3 linked regions of the Homo sapiens genome follow. Each later gene encodes a partner of the first gene's protein in a complex. Each region holds a gene or a part of one and is shown in the gene's direction. Other genes may lie near its edges.

Region 1 (7,475 bases):
TCTGTAGTCCCAGCTTCTTGGGAAGTTTAGTGGGAGGGGTGCTTGAGTCCAGGAGTTTCAGGCCGCAGTGAGTTATGATCATACTACTGCACTCCAGCCTGGGCGATAGAGCAAAACTCTGTCTCAAAAATAGAAGACTTACAGTTTCTGAAACATATTTTACAATGTTGTGATAGTAGAAATTTAAATTGGATCCCATGTACTTTTGAATTTCAACTTTATCACCCAGTAAAAACTAGAAAGTGATAAATGTGGCATGAAGCAGCACATCCAGATTGTAGTTTTGTTGATAATCTTTGAAAATTGGAAAAGCCCCTGAGTTGTACTGAAAAGAAGAATATTTTGAAGACATTTCAACTGGTGACAGTCTCTCAAAAGGAATTACGGGCCAGGTGCACTTGTTCACACCTGTCATCCTAGCACTTCAGGAGGCTGAGGCAGGCAGATTGCTTGAGGTCAGGAGTTTGAGACCAGCCTGGACAATATGGTGAAACCCCGTGTCTGCCAAAAAATACAAAAATTAGCCAGGCATCGCCGGGCGCAGTGGCTCATGCCTGTGATCCCAGCACTTTGGGAGGCCGAGGTGGGCGGATCACCTGAGGTTGGGAGTTTGAGACCACTCCGACCAACATGGAGAAACCCCGTCTCTACTAAAAATACAAAATTAGCTGGGTGTGGTGGCCTGTAATCCCAGCTGCTCGGGAGGCTGAGGCAGGAGAATCGCTTGAACCCAGGAGGCAGAGGTTGCAGTGAGCCGGAGATCACGCCATTGCACTCGAGCATGGGTAACGAGCGAAACTCAAAAAAAAAAAAAAAAAATTTAGCCAGGCATGATGGTGCACGCCTGTAGTCCCAGCTACTCAGGAGGCTGAGGCAGGAGAATCACCTGAACCCGAGAGGCGGAGATTAAAGTCAGCAGAGATAGTGCCACTGCACTCCAGCCTGGGTAACAGCCCCTGTCTCAAAAAAAAAAAAAAAAAAGTCTGGGTACAGTAGCTCACGACTGTAATCCTAGCACTTTGGGAGGCCAAGGCAAGTTGATCACCTGAGGTCAGCAGTTCAAGACCAGCCTGGCCAACATGGCGAAACTACCCCGTCTCTACTAAAAATACAAAAATTAGCCGGGCATGGTGGTGCTCACCTGTAATCCCATCCCAGCTACTCGGGAGATTGAGCCAGGAGAATCTGGGCGGGGGAAAGGTGTCAGACAGTCGAGGTTGCAGTGAGCGCGGAGGTCATGCCACTTCACTCTAGCTTGGGTGAAAGAGTGAAACCCTGTCAAAAAAAAAAAAAAAGGCGCAATTATGGTATGTAGCCACAAGGAGGAGCTAAATTCTATTGATAAATGAGGCTGGTACAGGAACCTCATTTTTTAAAGGCATTTACAGTTTCACTGTAAAACTTCACATTTGGATAATTTTGTTTTAGTAGATAGATGACAGGCTTGTTTGGTTTTAAAAGAAATAGTAAAAAGTATCTATTGTGCTGTACTCTCAGTTATTAGAATGTATTTCCTGTCTTTAAGCCCTCCTTACCCACCACTAAAACGGGATTATCTGCTATAGTAGTTACAAATATTAAACAAGGAGTTATTTGTTTGGATCCGTGACCTTGAGGCATTTTAAAATCTTCAGGTTGAATTTGCAATTCATTTTACTTCATTTTGAAGAATTTGGAATTGATTCGTTTTAGAATTATTCTCCCAATATTTGTTAGATAGCAGGATTGTGATAAATTAAAACATCTTAGCAGGCCTCCTGCCTCCCCAGCTTTTTTTTATTTTTTTATTTTTCGAGACGGAGTTTTGCCCTGTCTCCCAGACTGGAGTGCAGTGGCGTGATCTCAGCTCACTGCAACCTCTGCTTCCTGGGTTCAAGCGATTCTCCTGCCTCAGCTTCCCGAGTAGCTGGGATTACAGGCGCCCACCATGATGCCTGGCTAATTTTGTTTTTATTTTATTTGTTTATGTTGTTTTTATTTTATTTTCTGTATTGACGGAGTCAGTACAAAATTAGCTGGGCATGATGGCGCATGCCTGTAATCCCAGCTACTTGGGAGGCTGAGGCAGGAGAATTGCTTGACCCGGGAGGCAGAGGTTGCAGTGAGCCAAGATTGCGCCATTGCACTCCACCCTGGGCAACAACAGCGAAACTCCATCGCAAGAAAAAATAGAAAAACACAAATGTAGTCATACAATAAGCTGCTTTGCTCCTTGGGGTGTACTTTTTTTTTTTTTTAACTGCCCCTTACAGAGCATGGCTAACTTATATAGTCAGTGCACCGAGTTGGCTGCTGCTTAGTTTTAAAATTGTGTTTTTAGCCTAACACTGTATCTACTGTATCTTAAAGATATTTTCATTTCTGTACATGAAAATCTTATTTTTTAACGGCTATATGGTATTTAATATCTGAGCATACTATGTTTTATTAATTTGGGTTTTTTTTTTTTTTTTTTGAGACCTGGAGTCTCGCACTGTCACCCAGGCTGGAGTGCAGTGGCGTGATCTCAGCTCACTATAACCTCCACCTCCCAGGTTCAAGTGATTCTCCTGCCTCAGCCTCCTGAGTGGCTGGGATTACAGGCACCTGCCACCATGCCCAGCTAATTTTTTGTATTTTTAGTAGAGACGGGGTTTCACTATGTTGGCCAGGCTGGTCTCGAATGACTGACCTTGTGAGCCACCACGCCTGCCGTGGGTTTTTTGTTTTGGTGTTTTTTGTTTTTGTTTTTGTTTTTTGAGACAGAGTCTTGCTCTGTTGCCAGGCTGGAGTGCAGTGGGGCAATCACAGCTCACTGTAACCTCCACTTCACGGGTTCAAGTGATTCTCCTGCCTCAGCCTCCCGAGTAGCTGGGACTACAGGCGTGCGCAACCACACCCAGCTAATTTTTGTATTTTTGGTAGAAACAGGGTTTCACCATGTTGGCCAGGATGGGTTTGACCTGTTGACCTGGTGATCCGCCCACCTTGGCCTCCCAAAGTGTTGGGATTATAGGCGTGAGCCCCGGCGCCCAGCCTAATTTGGGTTTTTATTGAGATTTGTTTTCAGTCTTTGCTAAGCAGTGCAGCGAGATTCTTTAAACATATCACCCTTCTGTGGGCCCTCGACACAGACATATTCAGCTTTCATTTATTTAATTTTTTTGAGACAGTTTCTTGTCACATGCAATGGCATGATCTTGGCTCACTGCAACCTCCACCTCCTGGGTTCAAGTGATTCTCCTGCCTCAGCCTCCCAAGTAGCTGGGATTACAGGCGTGCAGGCGTGCGCCACCACGCCCAGCTAATTTTTTTGTTTTGTTTTTTGTATTTTTAGTAGAGACTGGGTTTCACCATTTTGGCCAGGCTGGTCTTGAACTCCCGACCTCAGGTGATCTGCCTGCCTCGGCCTCCCAAAGTGTTGAGATTACAGGTGTGAGCTGCCACACCCGCCCCCCCCCACCTTTTTTTTTTTTTTTGAGACCAAGTCTCACTCTGTCACCGGTGTTGGAGTCCAGTGGCACAATCTTGGCTCACCACAACCTCTGCTTCCTGGGTTCAAGCGATTCTCCTGCCTCAGCCTCCCGAATAGCTGGGATTACGGGCACATGCCACCATGCCCGGCTAATTTAAAAAATATTTTTAGGCCGGGTGCAGTGGTTCACGCCTATAATCCCAGCATTTTGGGAGGCCGAGGAGGGTGGATCATGAGGTCAGGAGATCTAGACTGTCCTGGCTAACACGGTGAAACCCCGTCTCTACTAAAAATACAAAAAATTAGCCAGGCGTTGTGGCGGGCACCTGTAGTCCCAGCTACTCGGGAGGCTGAGGCAGGAGAATGGCGTGAACCCAGGAGGCGGAGCTTGCAGTGAGCTGAGATCCTGCCACTGGACTCCAGCCTGGGCGACACAGGGAGACTCCGTCTCAAAAAAAAAAAAAAAATTTTTTTTTAATAGGGATGGGGTGTCACCAGGTTGGCCAGGCTGGTCTTGAACTCCTGACCTCAGGTGACCCGCCCACTTCAGCCTCCCAAAGTGTTGAGATTACAGGAGTGAGCCATTGTGCGTGGCCCTAGCCTTTTTTTCTCTTTTTTTGATACAGGATCTTTTGCTTTGTCACTCAGGCTGGAGTGAGCTGGTGTGGTCTCAGTTCACTGCAGCCTTGATCTTATGGGCTCAATTGATCCTCCCACCTCGGCTTCCTGAGTAGCTGGGAGTATGGACATGTGTCACCATGGCTGGCTAATTTTTTTTTTTTTTCCTTTTTTTTTTTGTAGAGATGTTGTCTCCCTATGTTGCCCAGGTGGTCTCGGTCTCTTGGGCTCAAGCAATCCTCCAATGTTGGCCTCCAGTAGTACTGGGATTACAGGCATGAGCCACCGCACCTGGCTAATATTCTGCTTTTTACTCAAAAACTAAGTTTTGGCTGGGCGCAGTGGCTCACACCTGTAATCCCAGCACTTTGGGAGGCCGAGGCAGGCAGATCACTTGAGCTCAGGAGTTTGAGACCAGCCTGGCCAACATGACGAAACCCCATCTCTACTAAAAATACAAAAAAATTAGCTGGGCATGGTGGCGGATGCCTGTAATCTCAGCTACTTGGGAGACTGAGGCAGGAGAATTGCTTGAACCTGAGGGGTGGACGTTGCAGTGAGCTGAGATCACGCCACTGCAGTCCAGCCTGGGTGACAGAAATCCTGTCTCAAAAAAAAAACAAAAAAGTTTTATCTAATAGTCATAAAAAAGGAAGCCAAGTGAAAAATTACTTAAACCAAGTGTGTTGATACATTAAGCTATGAGACATCTAAAATAATGAAACTTGGAACTTAGTGGAACATGTACATGTTTTCAGCATACTTAAACCCAAAAATCATTAATTTTCAGAACTTAATCAGTGCTTTTACATTTGTTTTTTCTTTTATGCTAGTTGGAAATGGAGGATGAAGATACAATTGATGTGTTCCAACAGCAGACGGGAGGTGTCTACTGAAAAGGGAACCTGCTTCTTTACTCCAGAACTCTGTTCTTTAAAGACCAAGATTACATTCTCAATTAGAAAACTGCAATTTGGTTCCACCACATCCTGACTACTACCGTATAGTTTTCTCTATTCTTTCATTTCCCCCTTCCCCATTCCTTTATTGTACATAAAGTAACTGGTATATGTGCACAAGCATATTGCATTTTTTTTTTTTTTAACTAAACAGCCAATGGTATGTTTTGATTGACATCAAGTGGAGACGGGATGGGGAAAAATACTGATTCTGTGAAAATACCCCCTTTCTCCATTAGTGGCATGCTCATTCAGCTCTTATCTTTATATTCCAGTAAGTTATTTTGCTCTCACTGTTTTAACAAAAAAAAAAAACAACAACATAAAAATCCTTGCATACCTTGTTCAATTGGAGAATTTTAATGTTTTTCATTTATCATTGTAAAACCAAGGACAATTTTATAACTTTTTTGTACGTAGCTGTTACATGTAGGGCAATCTGTCTTTAAGTAGGGATAAATTACTCTAAAACAAAAAAGAATCCTAGATAGTTTTCCCTTCAAGTCAAGCGTCTTGTTGTTTAAATAAACTTCTTGTTTAAAATGAGCTGTTTTCTTTATTCTGAGAAATATTAAATAGAAAATTGAGGCTTAGAAAAAACATAAATAGGCCTGCTTAGAAGTAACATTTCAAGAAGGAAATAAAGCTACTTGGTGTTTCTGACAGACTGATACTGATGCCAAACAAAGAATAACAGTTTTATAAATATCACCTTGTTCCAAAAGTTTCTCTAGGTCCCATGTTAATATGCAAGTATACTAGCAGAAAAATTGGGCCATAGTATCGTGGATTTCCAGGTATTTTCTGTATATTAAGTGAGGCACGGAGCATAGGGTATAGGGTAGCACATGTGGCAAGGAAAAAGTTCTGATTTTGCCTTTGTTGCTGATAAAACACTGAACCATTCTAGCCTGCACTTATCATAAGTAAATACTCCCTAACCTAAAATAAAGTTTTCGTTCCTTATTCAAGGATTTTTTTTTTGAGACGGAGTTTTCCTCTTGTTGCCCAGGCTGGAGTGTAGTGGTGCAATTTCAGCTCACTGCAACCTCAGCCTCCTGAGTAGCTGGGGGGTCATAGGTGCATGCCACCACGCCCAGCTAATTTTTTTTCTATTTTTAGTCGAGACAGGGTTTTATCACGTATGCCAGGCTGGTCTCGAACTCCTGACCTTAGGTGATCCACCCGCCTCAGCCTCCCAAAGTGCAGGGATTACGGCATGAGCCACCACGCCTGGCCTATTCAAGAATATTGAGGGACAGAAAATATCTATATATATCCATCCTCAGAACCTTAAATATACAGGTCACTACAGTCTTTATTATTTTAATTTTTGTTTCTTAGGGTTTCTTTTGGTGGTGGTTTTTTGAGATGGAGCATCATTCCGTCTCCCAGGCTGTAGTGCAGTGGCACAATCTTGGCTCACTGCAAGCTCCGCCTCCCGGGTTCACGCCATTCTCCTGCCTCAGCCTCCCGTCTTAGGTCTTTTTGAAAGAGGTTATGCCTCTGTTGCCTAGTCTGGAGTGGTGCAATGGTGTGATCTTGGCTCACTGCAACCTCCACCTCCAGGTCTTAAGAGATCCTCCCTGCTCAGCCTCGTGAGTAGCTAGAACCGCAGGTGCATGCCACCACAGCTAATTCTTGTATTTTTTATAGAGAGTGTTTCGCCATATTGTCCAGGCCGGGCTCAAACCCCTGATCTTAAGTGATCTATCTGCCTTAGCCTCCCAATGTGCTGGGTTTACAGGCGTGAGCCACTATGCCCAGCCCCTTTTTAATTTTTTAAAAATGTTTATTTTTGAGATGGAGTTTCGCTCTTGTTGCCCCAACTGGAGACCAATGACATGATCTCAGCTCACTGCAACCTCCGCCTCCCGGGTTCAACTGATTCTCCTCCCTCAGCCTCCGGAAAAGCTGGGATTACAAGCATCTACCATCATACCTGGCTAATTCTGTATTTTTAGTAGAGAAGGGGTTTCTCTATGTTGGTCAGGCTGGTCTCCACCTCCCGACCTCAGGTGATCTGCCTGCCTTGGCCTCCCAAAGTGCTGAGATTACAGGCTTGAGCCACTGTGCCCGGCCAAATTTTTATTATTTTTAAATTAGAGGTGGGGTCTCACCATGTTGACCAGTTTGGTCTCGAACTTCTGGCCTCAGTCCCTTGTCTTGGCCTCCCAAAGTGTTGGGGTTTCAGGTGTTAGACCCCATGCCCAACCACTACAGTTTTTGTTTTTGTTTTTGTTTTTTTTTCAGACGGAGTCTTGCTCTGTCGCCCAGGCTGGAGTGCAGTGGCGCAATCTTGGCTCACGGCAAGCTCCACCTCCCGGGTTCACGCCATTCTCCTGCCTCAGCCTCCCCAGTAGCTGGGACTAAAGGTGCCCGCCACCATGCCCGGCTAATTTTTTTGTATTTTTAGTAGAGACAGGGCTTCACCATGTTAGCCA
Region 2 (7,761 bases), on another chromosome or scaffold:
GAGGTCAAGAGATCGAGACCAGCCTGGCCAACATGGTGAAAGCCCATCTCTACTAAAAATACAAAAATTAGCCGGGCGTGGTCATGCATGCCTGTAATCCCAGCTACTCAGGAGGCTGAGGCAGGAGAATCACTTGAACCTGGGAGGCAGAGGTTGCAGCGAGCCAAGATCCTGCTGCTACACTCTAGCCTGGGTGACAGAGGAAGACTCCATCTCAAAAAAAAAAAAAAATTCCTTCATTATTGTGTCATGCTTTAAGGCCCAGGACAGGCCTAGGCAAAAGTTTTGATGGCCTTTTGTTACATCCCAGCCTTTGTATAAGGGCACTGGCTTTTAGTATTTAACTTCATTCAGTAATTACTGAAACAGTTGTTATGAAAGTCTGCATTAGTGAGACCTGGCCTGCCACAGGAGGTTGCAGTGAGCTGAGATCTTGCCACTGTACTCCAGCCTGGGTGGCAGTGTGAGACTCTGTCTCAAAAAAGAAAAATGATGCAGAAAGATTTGTTTGACACAGGGTGGGCATAAACTTTCAATTTGTAAAAAACATAGTATCTGTGAAGTACAATAAAATGTAGTGCGATAAAATGAGGTATGCTTGGACAGCAAAACATCATGTTGTACCTAGTAAATGTATACAATTTTTATTTGTGAATTATACCTCAATAAAGCTGGACAAATGAACTGTATTTGCAACATGGTAGGGAATATATGACATTGGACACTAATGCAAATGGAATTTTCAGTGCCTTGGTGAAAATGTTATACCACTGAACAAAAAAAAAATGTAGTGTAAAATGAAGTAAAATGTGAAAATCCCTAATAAATGCAGAAATATGAACTGCTTATCCAAAAGAGAAAAGTCTTTTGAGTTCCTCAAGAAGATTCTCTCTTTGGATGCTGGGCGCGGTGGATGCCGGGCACCTGTATCCGAGCACTTTGGGAGGCCGAGGCAGATGGATCACTGGAGGCCAGGAGTTCAAGACCAGCCTGTCCAACACGGTGAAACCCCGTCTCTACTAAAAATACAACAATAACCCGGGTGTGATGGCATGTACCTGTAATCCCAGCTACTCAGGAGGCTGAGGCACAAGAATTGCTTGAACCTGGGAGGCAGAGGTTGCAGTGAGCCGAGATTGTGCCACTGCAGTCCAACCTGGACCACAGAGTGAAACTCCGTCTCAAAAAAAAAAAAAAAAGAAAGAAGGAAAAAGAAGGTTCTCTCTTTGGGCACTCCTTTTCGATATATTCAACATAAATGGATTAATGATACCATTTTTACTAGGTGAGTATGTTTGGGCAAGTTGCTTCAGTGCTCATTCTCTTGGTTTCCTTTTTTTTTTTTTTTTTTTGGAGACAGGGTCTTTCTCTGTCACCTAAGCTGGAGTGCAGTGGAGTGAACATAGCTCACTGCAGCCTCCAACACCTAGCCTCAAGAGATCCTCCTGCTTCAGTCTCCCAAATAGCTGGGACTACTGGCAGGCACCACCATGCCTGGCTAGTTTTTAATTTCTTTTTTTTTGTAAGCACAGGGTGTTGCTATGTTGCCCAGGCAGGTCTTGAACTACTGGGCTCAAGTGATCCTCCCACCTCAGCCTCCCAAAGTTTTGGATTACAGGCATGAGCCATGGTGCCTGGCTGTCTTTTGCTTTCCTTATCTGTAAAAACTGAGGATAATAACAGTACCCTTACAAAGTTGGTGGAAGAATGATATTAATACAAATGAAGTGCTAACAGAAAGAGCTTTGGAACACAGCAAGTACTTGTTAGCTATGGCTATTGTTATCAACACACTTTTCAAGGCAAACTTGTGGTTTCACCTATCACCTGAGATATATGACTTTTAAGTCCATCAGATCTTCTCTTTTGGTTTTTATTTTTAAATTAATTAAATATTATTATTATTATTATTTTGAGACAGAGTCTGCTCTGTTGCCCAGGCTAGAGTGCACTGGCACGATCTCAGCTCACTGCAACCTCCACCTCCCAGGTTCAAGCAATTCAGGTGCCTCAGCCATCCAAAGAAGCTGGGATTACAGGCATGCACCACCATACCCAGTTAATTTTTGCATTTTTAGTAGAGATAGGGTTTCAACACGTTGGCCAGGCTGGCCTTGAACTCCTGGCCTCAAGCAATCAGCCCATCTGGGCCTCCCAGTGTGCTGGGATTACAGGCGTGAGCCATCGTGCCTGGCCCTCTTTTCGTTTTAGAGATAGGAATCTCATTCTCTTCCACAGGCTGGAGTGCAAAGGCATGAACATAACTCATTGCAGTCTCCAATCCTGGGCTAAAGGGATGTTTCCCCCTCTGCCTTTGGAGTAGCTGGGCCTCAGAACTGTGCCGCAACTACTGACTTCCATCAAGATCTCTGTCCTACCATTTCATCTTCCTACTAGGCTATCCCCACATGGATATATAAATGGTACCTCAAGTGAAAGAAATCAACTACCTAAAATAGGATTTTCCACTCCAAACTAGATTTTCTTTACATGTCATTTCTGTTAATGTGGGTCACACACACTGGTAAGCTCAGAATCATCTTTTTCTTTTCTTTTATTCACATCCAATATTGTTGAAATAAAACAAAATGCTGTTTTTCCTTTTTTAGAAAGGCAATACTTGTTCATTATATCAAAATTTAGAAAATATGGAAAAACAAAAAGGATAAAAAATTATCCACAACCAAAATAGCCCAAATTTCCAGTTAAAAATGTCAACGCATTTGATATTTGTCCACATAATTCAGACTGTAATGTTTACACAAATGTGAGCTTTTAAAATCTAAAAGGTTCTCACTATTAAAAATGTTTTGTTAAATTTTGTTTTAAAAGTAAGATTTTAATATCCAAATTCCCAAAATAGACATTTTTGAAGATTTGGAAAATACAGACGGCTCAAAATCTTTACATTATTACTGTTAAATTTTGGTATGTTCTGTTATTCTGCTAGTGAAATATATATAGATTTGGGGGGGCTATTCCTTTTCCTTTTTTTTTTTTTTTTTGAGACAAGGGTCTCACTCTGGTGCCCAGGATGGAATGCAGTGGCGCTATCACAGTTCATTGTAACCTGGAACTCCTGGACTCGAGGGATCCTCCCGCCTCGACCTCCCAAAGTGCTGGGGCTACCAGCTTAAGCCACTGTGCCAGGCGAATGGCTATTCCTATATACACAGTTGACCCTTGAATAACATGGGTTTGAACTGCCTGGGCCCGCTTATAAGCCGACAGAAAATACAGTATTGGAGGGGCCTGCATATAGAGAGGTCTGACTTTTCCTCTAAGTGTTCCACCCGCAGGACTGACTGCGGGATTTGAGAATGCGCGGACTTCTTCTTCTTCTTTTTTTTTTTAGGAAGTCTTACTCTCGCCCAGGCTTGAGTGCAGTGGCGCGATCTCAGCTCACTGTAACCCTCGCCTCTCAGTTTCAAGCGATTCTCGTGCCTCAGCCTCCCGAGTAGCTGGGATTATAGGGGCCCACCTCCACGCCCAGGTAATTTTTTGTATTTTTAGTAGAGATGGGCTTTCGCCATGTTGGCCAGGCTGGTTTCGAACTCCTGACCTCAGGTGATCCGCCCGCCTCGGCCTCCCAAAGTGCTGGGATTACAGGCGTGAACCACAGCGCCCGGCGGAATGCGTGGATTTTGGCATAAGACGGTGGTTCTGGAACCAATCCCCCGCCGAGATGACTGTTTAAAAAATTGTAATTGTCCAAAACTTAATATTTGTGGTCTTTTTCATTATGCAGTTCTAAATCTCCCTTTTTTTTTTTTTTTAAATTCAGACGGAGTCTCCCTCTGTCGCCCAGACGGCGCAATCTCGGCTCACTGCAACCTCCGCCTCCCGGGTTCAAGCGATTCTCCTGCCTTAGCCTCCGGAGTAGCTGGGACTACAGGCGTCCGACACCACGGCCGGCTAATTTTTTGTATTTTTGGTAGAGATGGGGTTTCCCTGTGCTAGCCAGGATGGTCTCGATTTCCTGACCTCATGATCCGCCCGCCGTGGCCTCTCAAAGTGCTGGGATTACAGGCGTGAGCCACCACGCCTGGCCCTCATTTAATAAGATATGAATTTAAAAATGTATGCTTTAGTATTCACACATGTCCGATGCAACGTATTTAACCAGTCATCTCCAGAAACTTTGTTCCAATTTACACGTTCACCAAATTGGCCTGAGTGCTTTTTTTCTTCCAATGCATTGCGCACTTATAATTTAGAACAAGTGACCAAAACGCTTAAGAGCCCATCACGCAAATTGTTATCTGCTGGAAATCTACGCCCTAGGCTGTGGACACTGGCGGCCGAAATCTGATCCCGGCTTGCCAAGACACCCTCAGAGCACGCGGCGCTGCCAAGAGCCTGGCCGAGTGCAGCTCGAGCGCCGACGTCGCCAACGTGGCGCACACTGCTGACGCAGTACGCAAGTTCGTCACAGTGGTCCTCCGCCGGCTGCGCCGCAAGTTCGTCACAGTGGTCCTCCGCCGGCTACGGCGCTGCGTCACTGGTTTGCAGGCGCTTTCCTCTTGGAAGTGGCGACTGCTGCGGGCCTGAGCGCTGGTCTCACGCGCCTCGGGAGCCAGGTTGGCGGCGCGATGAGGCGCAGCAAGGCTGACGTGGAGCGGTACATCGCCTCGGTGCAGGGCTCCACCCCGTCGCCTCGACAGGTGAGTGGGTCTCGAAGAGACCGACGGCCTCGACCTGGCCGGGCGGCGGCCTCGCGCTGCTCAGGCGTCATGGCTCCCGACGGGCGCTGCTCCCTGGCGCGCTCTGTTGAGGCGCCGGCCGGCTGGCGCAGTCCTGTGGGCGGCGTGGCGCTTGCAAGCGCATGAAGAGTCCTGGGGGGACAGCGGTGGGCGGGAGACCTTTGGCGCCGGCGCTTCCTCTTTCTCCCGGCTTGTTCCCGACGCTTGTTCCCGACGGTGCTCGCTCCTGGGGCCGCCCTGGCCCGGGCTTTCTGGCCGATCGCGCACCCCGTAGTACCCGCGCGGCCTAGTTCTCGGGGGCTTGGGCACCCGGGTGCTGTATCGGCGGGTTTCTTCCCATCTCCTGGACATATACTTTATATGCTGCGGCGGAGGTCGTACCTCCTTGGCCTGGAGGAACCCAGTGGGGACTGACGCAGCTCCGGGTGAGCTTTGGCGGCTGCGTCGAGTGACAAGGTAGGCATCTCAGCGCGGACATTTGCAATGGCCCGACGGCGCAAATGACACTGAAAGTCCCCTTGTTTTGAGTATGAGGTGTTTGTCGCTGTCCCTTTGTAAGGGTCCAGCTCCACTCCGCTCCTCATACTCACCTCCCTCGCCCCCCTCCCCGCCCGGAACACTTTGGTAGCTGCCTTTGCTTAAAAAAAAAAAATTCTAAAGTTCTTACAAATCGTTAGTATGGCTTGCAATTTTTAACCTTTTCCACAAATGTTTTAAGGGTATTTTTCCTCTTTACATGTAAATAATGTGATCTATTTTGGATTCAATAAGACTTTAGTAATTGGATCTAAAGAGTGACGGAAGAAGCTATTAAAGGTGGATGTGCGCAGAATCTTGAGTCAGTTTGCTTTGGCTTGAATAATCACAGCACTGTCGTTTATAAGCTGGGTATTTGGGGCCAGTTACACTTTTCATCCATAGATGGAGTTGTAACATTAATAGAATTTGATAGGATGATCCATTTTAAACATTTAGGGTATTGCTTGACACATAGCACTAAATGTTAGCTACAAGTCACTTTTTATTGTTGATGTTAAAAGGATATTGGCGGGGCGCAGTGGCTCACGCCTGTAATCCCACCACTTTGGGAGGCCGAGGAGGGCGGATTGCCTGAGGTCAGGAGTTCGTGACCAGCCTGGCTAACATGTTGATACCTCGTCTCTACTAAAAATACAAAAAAAGTTAGCCGGGCGTGGTGGCGCATGCCTGTAGTCCCAGCTACCCGGGAGGCTGAGGCAGGAGAGTCGCTTGAACCCGGGAGGCGGAGGTTCCAGTGAGCCGAGATCGCGCTACTGCACTCCAGCCTGGGCGACAGAGGGAGACTCCAAAAAAACAAAAACAAAAACAAAAAAAACCCGGAAACTCACGGATGACCATGATTATAATAGTAGCATAATTGTGTCTCTTATCGTAACTAAGCATAGGTTATCTTATTTTGCGCTTCCAGCAGCCCTGTGGATATTGAGACCTGTAGAGATTTAAGATACTTGTTCAGGGTCAAATAGATAGTGCAGCAGAATTTTGGCAGTGGGTCTGATTTAGTTTCTCTTGGGAACAGTGGAGTAAGTTACAGTCTATTCCTCCAGAGGAGGAGGATAGATATCTACTTGTACATTGTAATTTCAAACTGCTAGCATAGTATAAATATGAATGTGATGATAGAGTCTAAAACAGACCTTAATTGAGGGTTCCTGTAACTCCTGAAATTAAAGACTTTAATTTTTGTGTTATTTTATTTTTTTTGAGGTGGGGTCTCACTCTGTCACCCAGCTGGATGCAGTGGCGCTATCTCGACTCACTGCACCTTCCGCCTCCCCAGCTCAAGCGATGCTCCCACCTCAGTCTCCCGAGTAGTTGGGACCACAGGTGTACCCACCACACCCGCTGTTTTGTTTTGTTTTGTATTTTTGGTAGAGACTGGGTTTCACCATGTTGCCCAGGCTGTTCTTGAACTCCTGGGCTCAAGTGATTTCCCCGCCTCCACTTCCCAAAGTGTTGGGATTATAGGCGTGAGCCACTGCACCGGCCATTATTTTATTTTTGAGACAAGGTCTCTTTCTGTCTCCCAGGCTGGAGTGCTGTGGCGGGATCGTGGCTCACTGCAGCGTTGACGTCCTGGGCTCAATCCATCCTCCCACCTTAGCCTCCTGGGTAGCTGAGACTACAGGCATGTGCCACCATGCCCGGCTTTTTTCTTTAATGTAGAGACGGGGTCTTATCATGTTACCCAGGCTGGTCTCCAACTCCTGGGCTCAAGTGATCCTCCCGCCTTGGCCCCAAGTGCTGAGATTACAGGTGTGAGCCACTCTGCTCAGCCTGATTTTTTTTTTTTTAAACAAGCTTAAAAAAAAAAAAAAGCAAGCTTAGAGCCTTTCTGAGATTCTTAGTGGGGACCTTGGCTTCCAAAAGATTAAAAACCACTGGTCTAGACAGAAGTTAGAATGTTCTTTCAACTACATAACTTCTCCATTAAATAAAGTGGAGTGGTGGCAGAATTTTGAGGATTGGTTATTATGACACCTCTCTTACACTTAGAGTCTTTTTTTTCCCCCAAATTTAAAGTCATTTACATTAGAACCTGGGGATTTCAGCGGAATATGGATTAACTAGTGAGTAACTTTGGAACATGTGAAGCTATTCTGTAAAGTTAGGTTTGAGTGAAATGACAAAACAGGGTGCTTTGGATAGAAGGTAAAGAATGGAGGGAGAAGAGGCAGTGGCTGTGAAGAATATGAAGAGGTTAGTATTCTCCCCCAGTTTGGCAGAGGCTGGCCATCTGTGAACTGCCCATGCTTTCTAGAATGTCGGAGTTTTGGAGTGTGATGATGCGTCTGTATATCATATCTTTCTAGTCTTTCATTGTGCTTTCATTTGTTAGTCTTCTCTTGTTTTGCCATTTTTCTACTCCCTCACATGTGCTTTTGCCCTTAAAAATATTCTTCGTCTGTAATCTGAGCACTTTGGGAGGCCGAGAGACCAGCCTGACCAATATGGTGAAAATCCGTCTCTATTAAAAATACAAAAATGAGCCGGGCGTGGTGGCAGCGCCTGTAGTCCC
Region 3 (7,475 bases), on another chromosome or scaffold:
AGGATTTGTTGTAAGTATTACTTACAACAATTAAGTAAGGCTGCTTTGTAGTTATAAGTTAAAATATTTTCAGGGCTGGTGCAGTGGCTCATGCCTATAATCTCAGCACTTTGGGAGGCCAAGGCAGGTATTGCTTGAGCCCAGGAGTTTGCAACCAACTTGGGCAATATAATGAGGCCCCATCTCTATCACTAAAAATAAGAAAAAAATGTTTTCCTACTGTAGTTTAGTAGGTCTTTGATAGTATATTTTTCTCAAGAGTCAGGTGTTGCCGAGATGAAAAACTTTTTTCAGTCTCGGAGTTTTCAATAACTGATAATGAATGGTTCTATATTAAAATAGCAACTTCTGAACTTTCTAATTCAGGACATGGAAAAGGAAATCAGTAATGCCCTAGGCCATGGCCCACAGGATGAAATCCTAAGTAGTGCTTTCAAATTGCGAATTACTCGAGGAGATATTCAGACATTAAAGAACTATCACTGGCTCAATGATGAAGTAAGTTGTATTCCCTCCCCCTTTTGGCTATCATTAAGTTTATTTATTTATTATCTATAATCAAAGTGACTCCTACCCAGTTATAATGGGTTGGTAATGCAACTCTTAGTTATAATTAAAACAAAAACATTTTAAATCTTAAAAAGATGGTTAGTTCTGATTTTCTGCCTTTGATTAGCGATGTTTCCCTTTTCTGCGTCTGTATTTTATTGCATCCACCACTTCATTTACTGGTCTTCAATAAACCCTGGGTACAGCTGATAAACGGGAGGAAGCAGCAAGTGATACTGTATTTTAGGTGAATTCTTATAGTAGCTATTTTTTTGTTTTTGTTTTTTGGTTTTGTTTTTGAGACAGAGTTTTGCTCTTGTTGTCCAGGCTGGAGTGCAATGGCGCAATCTTGGCTCAGCGCAACCTCCACCTCCTGGGTTCAAGCAATTCTCCTACCTCAGCCTCCCAAGTAGCTGGGATTACAGGCATGCGCCACCATGCCCGGCTAATTTTGTATTTTTAGTAGAGACAGGGTTTCTCCATGTTGGTCAGGTTGGTCTCAAACTCTGGACCTCAGGTGATCCGCCCGCCTTGGCCTCCCAAAGTGCTGGGATTACAGGCGTGAGCCACCGTGCCTGGCCTGTTTTATTTTTTGAGTAATAAAGGGATATATTGATCACTATATACTATGTGTATTTTTCTTTGAGTGATAGCTGAAAAATTTTGCCTAACTTGTCATCTTGTATCCTTAATACATTTAGCAAAAGCTAACTCTTAAGTTCTTTGACAATTTTCTGGTGGGTTCTTCCCCGAACTGCTTAGCCCCTGCATGTTCTCTCTTTGAGGGAAGTCCCCTATGACTAGTTACTTATAAACACATTCTTTGAAAACAGGAATGTTTTGTTTTACATTATAAATGTAATTTGTTTATCGTAGAATATTTGGAAAATACAGGAAAAGTAAAAAATATTACTGTTCAAAAGTACCACCACTCGGCCGGGCGCGGTGGCTCACGCCTGTAATCCCAGCACTTTGGAAGGCTGAGGCGGGCGGATCACGAGGTCAGGAGACCGAGACCACCCTGACTAACACGGTGAAACCCCGTCTCTACTAAAAATACAAAAAAATTAGCCAGGCATGGTGGCGGGTACCTGTAGTCCCAGCTACTCGGGAGGCTGAGGCAGGAGAATGGTGTGAACCCGGGAGGCAGAGCTTGCAGTGAGCCGAGATCACGCCAGTGGACTCCAGCCTGGGCGACAGGGCAAGACTCCGTCTCAAAAAAAAAGTATCACCACTCAGAGATAAATAAAATATTATTTTGGTGTATGTCCTTCAAGTTAATATTTTAAAATTGAAGTCTAATTTATATGTAGTAAAATTCACTTACTGTTAATATTTCTGCGTATTTTTGGTGTGATACAGTTATGTAGATCTTTCCATTATTGCACAGACTTTCTTCCTGGATTCCTTCTTCTGGCTGTTAAGTGTTACTCACATGCCTTAAAAGTACAGTTTCATTTCATTTTCATGTGTCCCATTTTGCACTGATCACTTTTTTCCCTGTCTTCTACTATAGACAGTCTTTTTATCCTCTTCTTTAGTACCTTACCTTCGAATTCATCCTTATTCAGGTAGAAATTTAGTTTTGATAATATGTTTGCCATGTTCCAGCTTTTGCTCCCTTGGTATTTTGTAGGTCATTAATTTTTACATGAATCTTCTGGTGGAAAGAAATAAAAAGCAAGGCTATCCAGCACTTCATGTATTCAGTACTTTCTTCTATCCTAAATTAAAGTCTGGGGGTTACCAAGCAGTGAAACGATGGACCAAAGGGGTAAATCTCTTTGAACAAGAAATTATTCTGGTGCCTATTCATCGGAAGGTACATTGGAGCCTGGTGGTGAGTAGAGAGGGTTAATGGTTAATTGTTGGACTTGGATAAAGGCCATTTTTTAAAAATAATGCTGCCTTTTTCTGCCCTGTGTATAGAGGCCAATAGTATATATTATAAGCATACTCTGCAGAGTCTCTTTTTAGTTTTTTTTTTAATGTCCCATCCTTCACCCAACCCTTTTAGTTCTTTTTATTTATTTATTCTTTAAAAAATTTTATGTTTATTTTATTTTACTATTTTTTAAAATTACAGACCAGGTCTCGCTCTGTTGCCCAGGCTGGAGTGAACTGGTGTGATCATAGCTCATTGCAGCCTGGAAGTCCTGGACTCAGGTGATCCTCCTGCCTCAGCCTCCTGAGTGACTAGGACTACAGGCATGGTCCACCATGCTTGCCTAATTTTATTTATTTATATATTTGGAAAGATGGAGTCTTGCTATGTTGCCCTGGTTGGTATCCAACGCCTGGCCTCAAGTGGTTCTCCTGCCTCAGTTTTTCAAAGTGTTGGTATTACAGGTGTGAGCCACCATGCCTGGCCTTTTTTTCTTTTTCTTTTTCTTTTTTTTTTTTAAATTTTTATTTTTAGAGACAGGGTCTCATTCTGCCACCCAAGCTGGCATGCAGTGGCACAACCATAGCTCACTGTAACCTCCACCTCCTGGGCACAAGTGATCCTTTCACTTTAGCCTCCCAGGTAGCTGGGACTACAGACATGCACCACTATGCCTGGCTAATTTTTTTTAATTTATTTTAATTTTTTTGTAGAGACAAGAGTCTTGTTTTTTTGCCCAAGCTAGTCTTGAGCTCCTGGCTTTAAGCAGTCCTCCCACCTCAGCCTCTCAGAATGATGGGTGAGATGCCGCACCTGGCCTCCTTTTTAGTTCTTGAGTTGAACAACTTTTAGAAGGCTACAGGACGAAGTCCTTGTACTTGAGGAGCTTTTTTTTGTTTGTTTGTATGTTTTTGAGATGGAGTCTTGCTCTGTTTCCCAGGCTGGAGTGCAATGGCACGATCTCGGCTCACTGCAGCCTCCGCCTCCTGGGTTCAAGCAATTCTCCTGCATCAGCCTCCTGAGTAGCTGGGATTACAGGCACGTGCCACCACCATACCTGGCTAATTTTTGTATTTTCAGTAGAAATGGGGTTTTACCATGTTGGTCAGGCTCGTCTTGAACTCCTGACCTCGTGATCCGCCACCTCAGCCTCCCAAAGTGCTGGGATTATAGGCGGGAGCCACCGCACCTGGCCGAGGAGCTTTCATTTTTAACAGGAAAGAGTCTTAGTATGCATAAGGGTTATTTATATTTATTTAGTTTTGTTTACAAGATAGTACAGGTTTATTGCAGAAAAATGCATTTATAAGGCCAGGTGTGGTGGCTCATGCCTATAATCCCAGACTTTGGGAGGCTGAGGCAGGAGGGGTTGCTTGAGCCCAAGAGTTTGAGACCAGCCTGGGCAACATGGAAAGACCCTGTCTATACAAATTTAAAAATTTGCTGGGCGTGGTGGTGCACACCTGTGGTCCCAGCTTTGTGGGCATGGTGGTGCACACCTGTGAGAGGCTGAGGTGGAAGATTCCCTGAGCCCAGGAGGTCGAGGCTGCAGTGAGCCGTGATCACACCACTGCACTCCAGCCTGGGTCACAGAGTGAGATCTTGTCTCAAAAAAAAAAAAAAAAAAAAAGAGAGAGAGAAAGAAAGAAAAGAAGGAAAGAAAGATACAGATATAAAGAAAGCAAAAAAAAAAAAAAAAGTCTCATCACTCTGAGAGGACCACTAATTTTTTAACTTAAAAACACACTTTTTTTACTAAAGATACGTAAGACACATTTTTAACTAAAAAAAAAAAAATACATGTACCAATATAAGTGGATATCGTTTTTCTTTTTTTTCTTTTTTTTTTTTTTTTTTTTTTTGAGACAGAGTCTCGCTATCACCCAGGCTAGAGTGCAGTGACACAATCTCGGCTCACTGCAACCTCTGCCTCCCGGGTTCAAGTGATTCTTCTGCCTCAGCCTCCTGAGCAGCTAGGATTACAGGCGCGTGCCATCATGCCCGACTAATTTTTGTATTTTTAGTAGAGACGGGGTTTCGCCATGTTGGTCAGGCTGGTCTCGAACTCCTGACCTCATGATCCGCCCGCCTCAGCCTCCCAAAGTGCTGGGATTACAGGTGTGAGCCACCATGCATGGCCCATAAATGGATTTCTAAGATACATAAAAAATTTATATTGGTACATGTATTTTTTAAAAGATGCTTTTATTTTTGGAAGTAAAATTCTCACTCCTCTTACATTTAAGATGTTTCTGGATGTTATCTTTTTCCATTATAGGTGATTGACCTAAGAAAAAAGTGTCTTAAATATCTGGATTCTATGGGACAAAAGGGCCACAGGATCTGTGAGATTCTCCTGTAAGTAAAGGTTGAAAACCTCACTACCCCCTGTTGAGGTGATCTCTCTTTTATCTCATCCTAGGAAGCTGTGTGGATGGTAGTCTAATGTGTAGTTAAGGCTATTTCAGGACTTAGCATGCATTTTATTTTTAAAATAATAGCTGATTTCAACTGAGAAAACGTGTTTAGTAGCATCACTGGAAACAAGTTTGTCATGTATTATGATGTAAAATAGATCTTATTAGAATCCTGTGACTTGCATTAGATTTCTTTGGCATCGATACGTTATTCTGAATGTTCTTAGGAACTGTTAGTTGGGGAGTGCTAGTCCTCTCAATTCTTAAGCCCATTTGTATCTTTATGCTTTCCATGAGAGTTGGGTTTATCTCAGAACCCAGGGGCAGTGTTTAAAGTGTGTGGTTTGAGGAGACTGTTTCAAATAGTAATTGCTATAATAGAAACCAATCTTTAAAGCATACCTACTTCTTAGCTAGGTAAAGTAGTGACATGAGTTGAGTGAGAAAACGCATCAGTAAGATGGGTCCATTTTTCCTTTTCTGCTCACTAGAAGCAATGAAGTTCCTTCTTTTAACTTTACTAAGGACAAATGAATCTTGTGAAGAAAAGTTGTTGCTAACAATAATATTGTTTTAGTATAAAATATTATTTTTATTTATGGTTGTTTATCTTGAATAAAAAGCATAGAGAAGAAAATTCTAAAAATCATAAGATACACCAATTGTTTATAAAATGGTTCTCTTCTAGTCTTTTCTTTGTAAGATGTGTATAAATTGTGCGCACATACATTTGCATTCATATGTATACATATATTATCCCATGTATAGAAATGTTCTTACTGGGATCATACAGTATAGTTTGATGTGCTGCTTATACCAGGATTTGAAAATTCATACTTTATTACATTCATGCTTTTTTTTTTTTTTTTTTTTTTTTGAGATGGAGTCTCATTGTGTCACCCCATGCAGTGGTGCAGTCTCAGCTCACTGCAACCTCTGCCTCCTGGGTTCAAGTGATGCTCGTTCCTCGGCCTCCCAAGAAGCTGGGAGTACAGGCTTCCGTCACTATGCCCGGCTAATTTTTGAATTTTTAGTAGAGACAGGGTTTCTCCATGTTGATCATGCTGGTCTTGAACTCCCAACCTCAGGTGATCCGCCCGCCCCAGCCTCCCAAAGTGCTGGGATTACAGGCGTGAGCCACCGTGCCCGGTGGTCTTTGGCTTTTTATGTTATTTATTTATTTGTTTGTTTTTTGAGATGGAGTTTCACTCTTGCTGCCCAGGCTGGAGTGCAATGGCGTGATCTCGGCTCACCGCAACCTCTGTCTCCCGGGTTCAAGAGATTCTCCTGCCTCAGCTCCCAAGTAGCTGGTATTAAAGGCTTGTGCCACCACGCCCGGCTAATTTTGTATTTTTAGTAGAGATGAGGTTTCTCCATTTTGGTCAGGCTGGTCGCAAACTCCCGACCTCAGGTGATCCATCCGCCTTGGCCTCCCAAAGTGTTGATATACAGGCGTGAGCCACCGCACCCGGCCTATGTTATTTTTTGTATCTTAATTTTGGTGGGGGCATCTAATGCTTATCAACCTGATATATATTTCAACTTTTAAAAACAAGCATGTACAATTTTTATAAGCAGACCTCCCCAAATTAAATAAAAAATCCAGAAAGCCACTTTGGGAGGCTGAGGCAGGCGGGATCACAGGCTCAGGAGATCGAGACCATCCTGGCTAACACGGTGAAACCCCATCTCTACTAAGAAAAATACAAAAAATTAGCAGGGCGTGGTGGCGTGCTCCTGTGGTCCCAGCTACTTGGGAGGCTAAGTCAGGAGAATGGCGTGAACCCGGGAGGCAGAGGTTGCAGTGAGCCGAGATCGCGCCACTGCACTCCAGCCTGGGCGACAGAGCGAGACTCTGTCTCAAAAAAAAAAAAAAAAAAAAAAAATCCAGAAAGCAGTCACGTTTTTAAAAAGCTAATGAATATGGATTTGAGAATGGCATATCTGTTTAACATCAGAAAGCCCTATGTAACCATAATGGTTAATTTCTTTAGGGATTTATTGATGTATTCCTTCTTTGTTTTGCTTTTTAGTCAGTATTTACAGGATGAAAGTAAGACCAAAAGAAATAGTGATCTGAATCTTTTAGAGTGGACCCATCACAGCATGAAACCACACGTGAGTGACGATCATCTACATGTGACATACTTGGTTGCATTTACTAATAGTATATTATCTAGATTTGGCTCCCTTCCTGCCCTTCCTCCCTCCCTGCATGCTTTTAAAGTACACATCTTTTTTTTTCTTTCTTTCTTTTTTGTAGAGATGGGATCTTGCTTTGTTGCCCAGGCTAGTCTCGGGCCTCCCAAAACAAAGTGCTGGGATTACAGGTGTGAGCCACCATGCCTGGCCAGAGTCTACATCTTAAGAATGATCTGCTTCTAAATCTCTAGCAATTAATCTAACTAAAATGGGTGCTTAGCTTTCATCTTCTTGTCTAAATGTAAATATTAACATATGCTTGCATGTCTCTCACAGAATTGGGAAGAAACCCAATACATTGAAGTTGGCTAATTTCCCGGTTGGTGCTAATGAAAGTTTACATTTCTTTTCCAAAATTTGGGAGTTTGTTTAAGTCTTAGGATCCCATGCCAAAAAAAGCATTTTAATTTCTAAACTGAAAA

What was found.
Region 2: the proteins of SUMO2 (region 1) and RANBP2 are in contact, whole or in part, in a crystal structure (PDB 3UIN), measured with the Homo sapiens proteins. Residues at the interface, in NP_008868.3 of Homo sapiens: His17, Asp26, Gly27, Ser28, Val29, Val30, Gln31, Phe32, Lys33, Ile34, Lys35, Thr38, Lys42, Leu43, Arg50, Gln51; in NP_006258.3 of Homo sapiens: Asp2630, Asp2631, Val2632, Leu2633, Ile2634, Val2635, Tyr2636, Glu2637, Leu2638, Pro2654, Thr2656.
Region 3: the proteins of SUMO2 (region 1) and SENP2 are in contact, whole or in part, in a crystal structure (PDB 3ZO5), measured with the Homo sapiens proteins. Residues at the interface, in NP_008868.3 of Homo sapiens: Arg56, Arg59, Arg61, Phe62, Asp63, Gly64, Gln65, Pro66, Asn68, Thr70, Asp71, Gln75, Leu76 (codon at 4,906), Glu77 (codon at 4,909), Asp82 (codon at 4,924), Asp85 (codon at 4,933), Phe87 (codon at 4,939), Gln88 (codon at 4,942), Gln89 (codon at 4,945), Gln90 (codon at 4,948), Thr91 (codon at 4,951), Gly92 (codon at 4,954), Gly93 (codon at 4,957), Val94 (codon at 4,960), Tyr95 (codon at 4,963); in NP_067640.2 of Homo sapiens: Gln385 (codon at 409), Asp386 (codon at 412), Leu395 (codon at 439), Arg396 (codon at 442), Tyr408 (codon at 478), His409 (codon at 481), Trp410 (codon at 484), Leu411 (codon at 487), Asn412 (codon at 490), Asp413 (codon at 493), Glu414 (codon at 496), Ser439 (codon at 2,258), Thr440 (codon at 2,261), Phe441 (codon at 2,264), Pro444 (codon at 2,273), Lys445 (codon at 2,276), Arg456 (codon at 2,309), Trp457 (codon at 2,312), Lys459 (codon at 2,318), His474 (codon at 2,363), Val477 (codon at 2,372), Trp479 (codon at 2,378).

What each region holds. Positions count from the first base shown.
Region 1 is NC_000017.11:75,165,832-75,173,306, reverse strand, and holds part of SUMO2 (small ubiquitin-related modifier 2 isoform a precursor), read left to right. Parts: intron 1-4,905; coding exon 4,906-4,968; 3' UTR 4,969-7,475. UniProt on the Homo sapiens protein: Ubiquitin-like protein that can be covalently attached to proteins as a monomer or as a lysine-linked polymer.
Region 2 is NC_000002.12:108,715,015-108,722,775, forward strand, and holds the start of RANBP2 (E3 SUMO-protein ligase RanBP2), read left to right. Parts: upstream 1-4,467; 5' UTR 4,468-4,592; coding exon 4,593-4,664; intron 4,665-7,761. UniProt on the Homo sapiens protein: E3 SUMO-protein ligase which facilitates SUMO1 and SUMO2 conjugation by UBE2I. Involved in transport factor (Ran-GTP, karyopherin)-mediated protein import via the F-G repeat-containing domain which acts as a docking site for substrates.
Region 3 is NC_000003.12:185,617,114-185,624,588, forward strand, and holds part of SENP2 (sentrin-specific protease 2), read left to right. Parts: intron 1-366; coding exon 367-498; intron 499-2,185; coding exon 2,186-2,389; intron 2,390-4,712; coding exon 4,713-4,792; intron 4,793-6,884; coding exon 6,885-6,969; intron 6,970-7,475. UniProt on the Homo sapiens protein: Protease that catalyzes two essential functions in the SUMO pathway.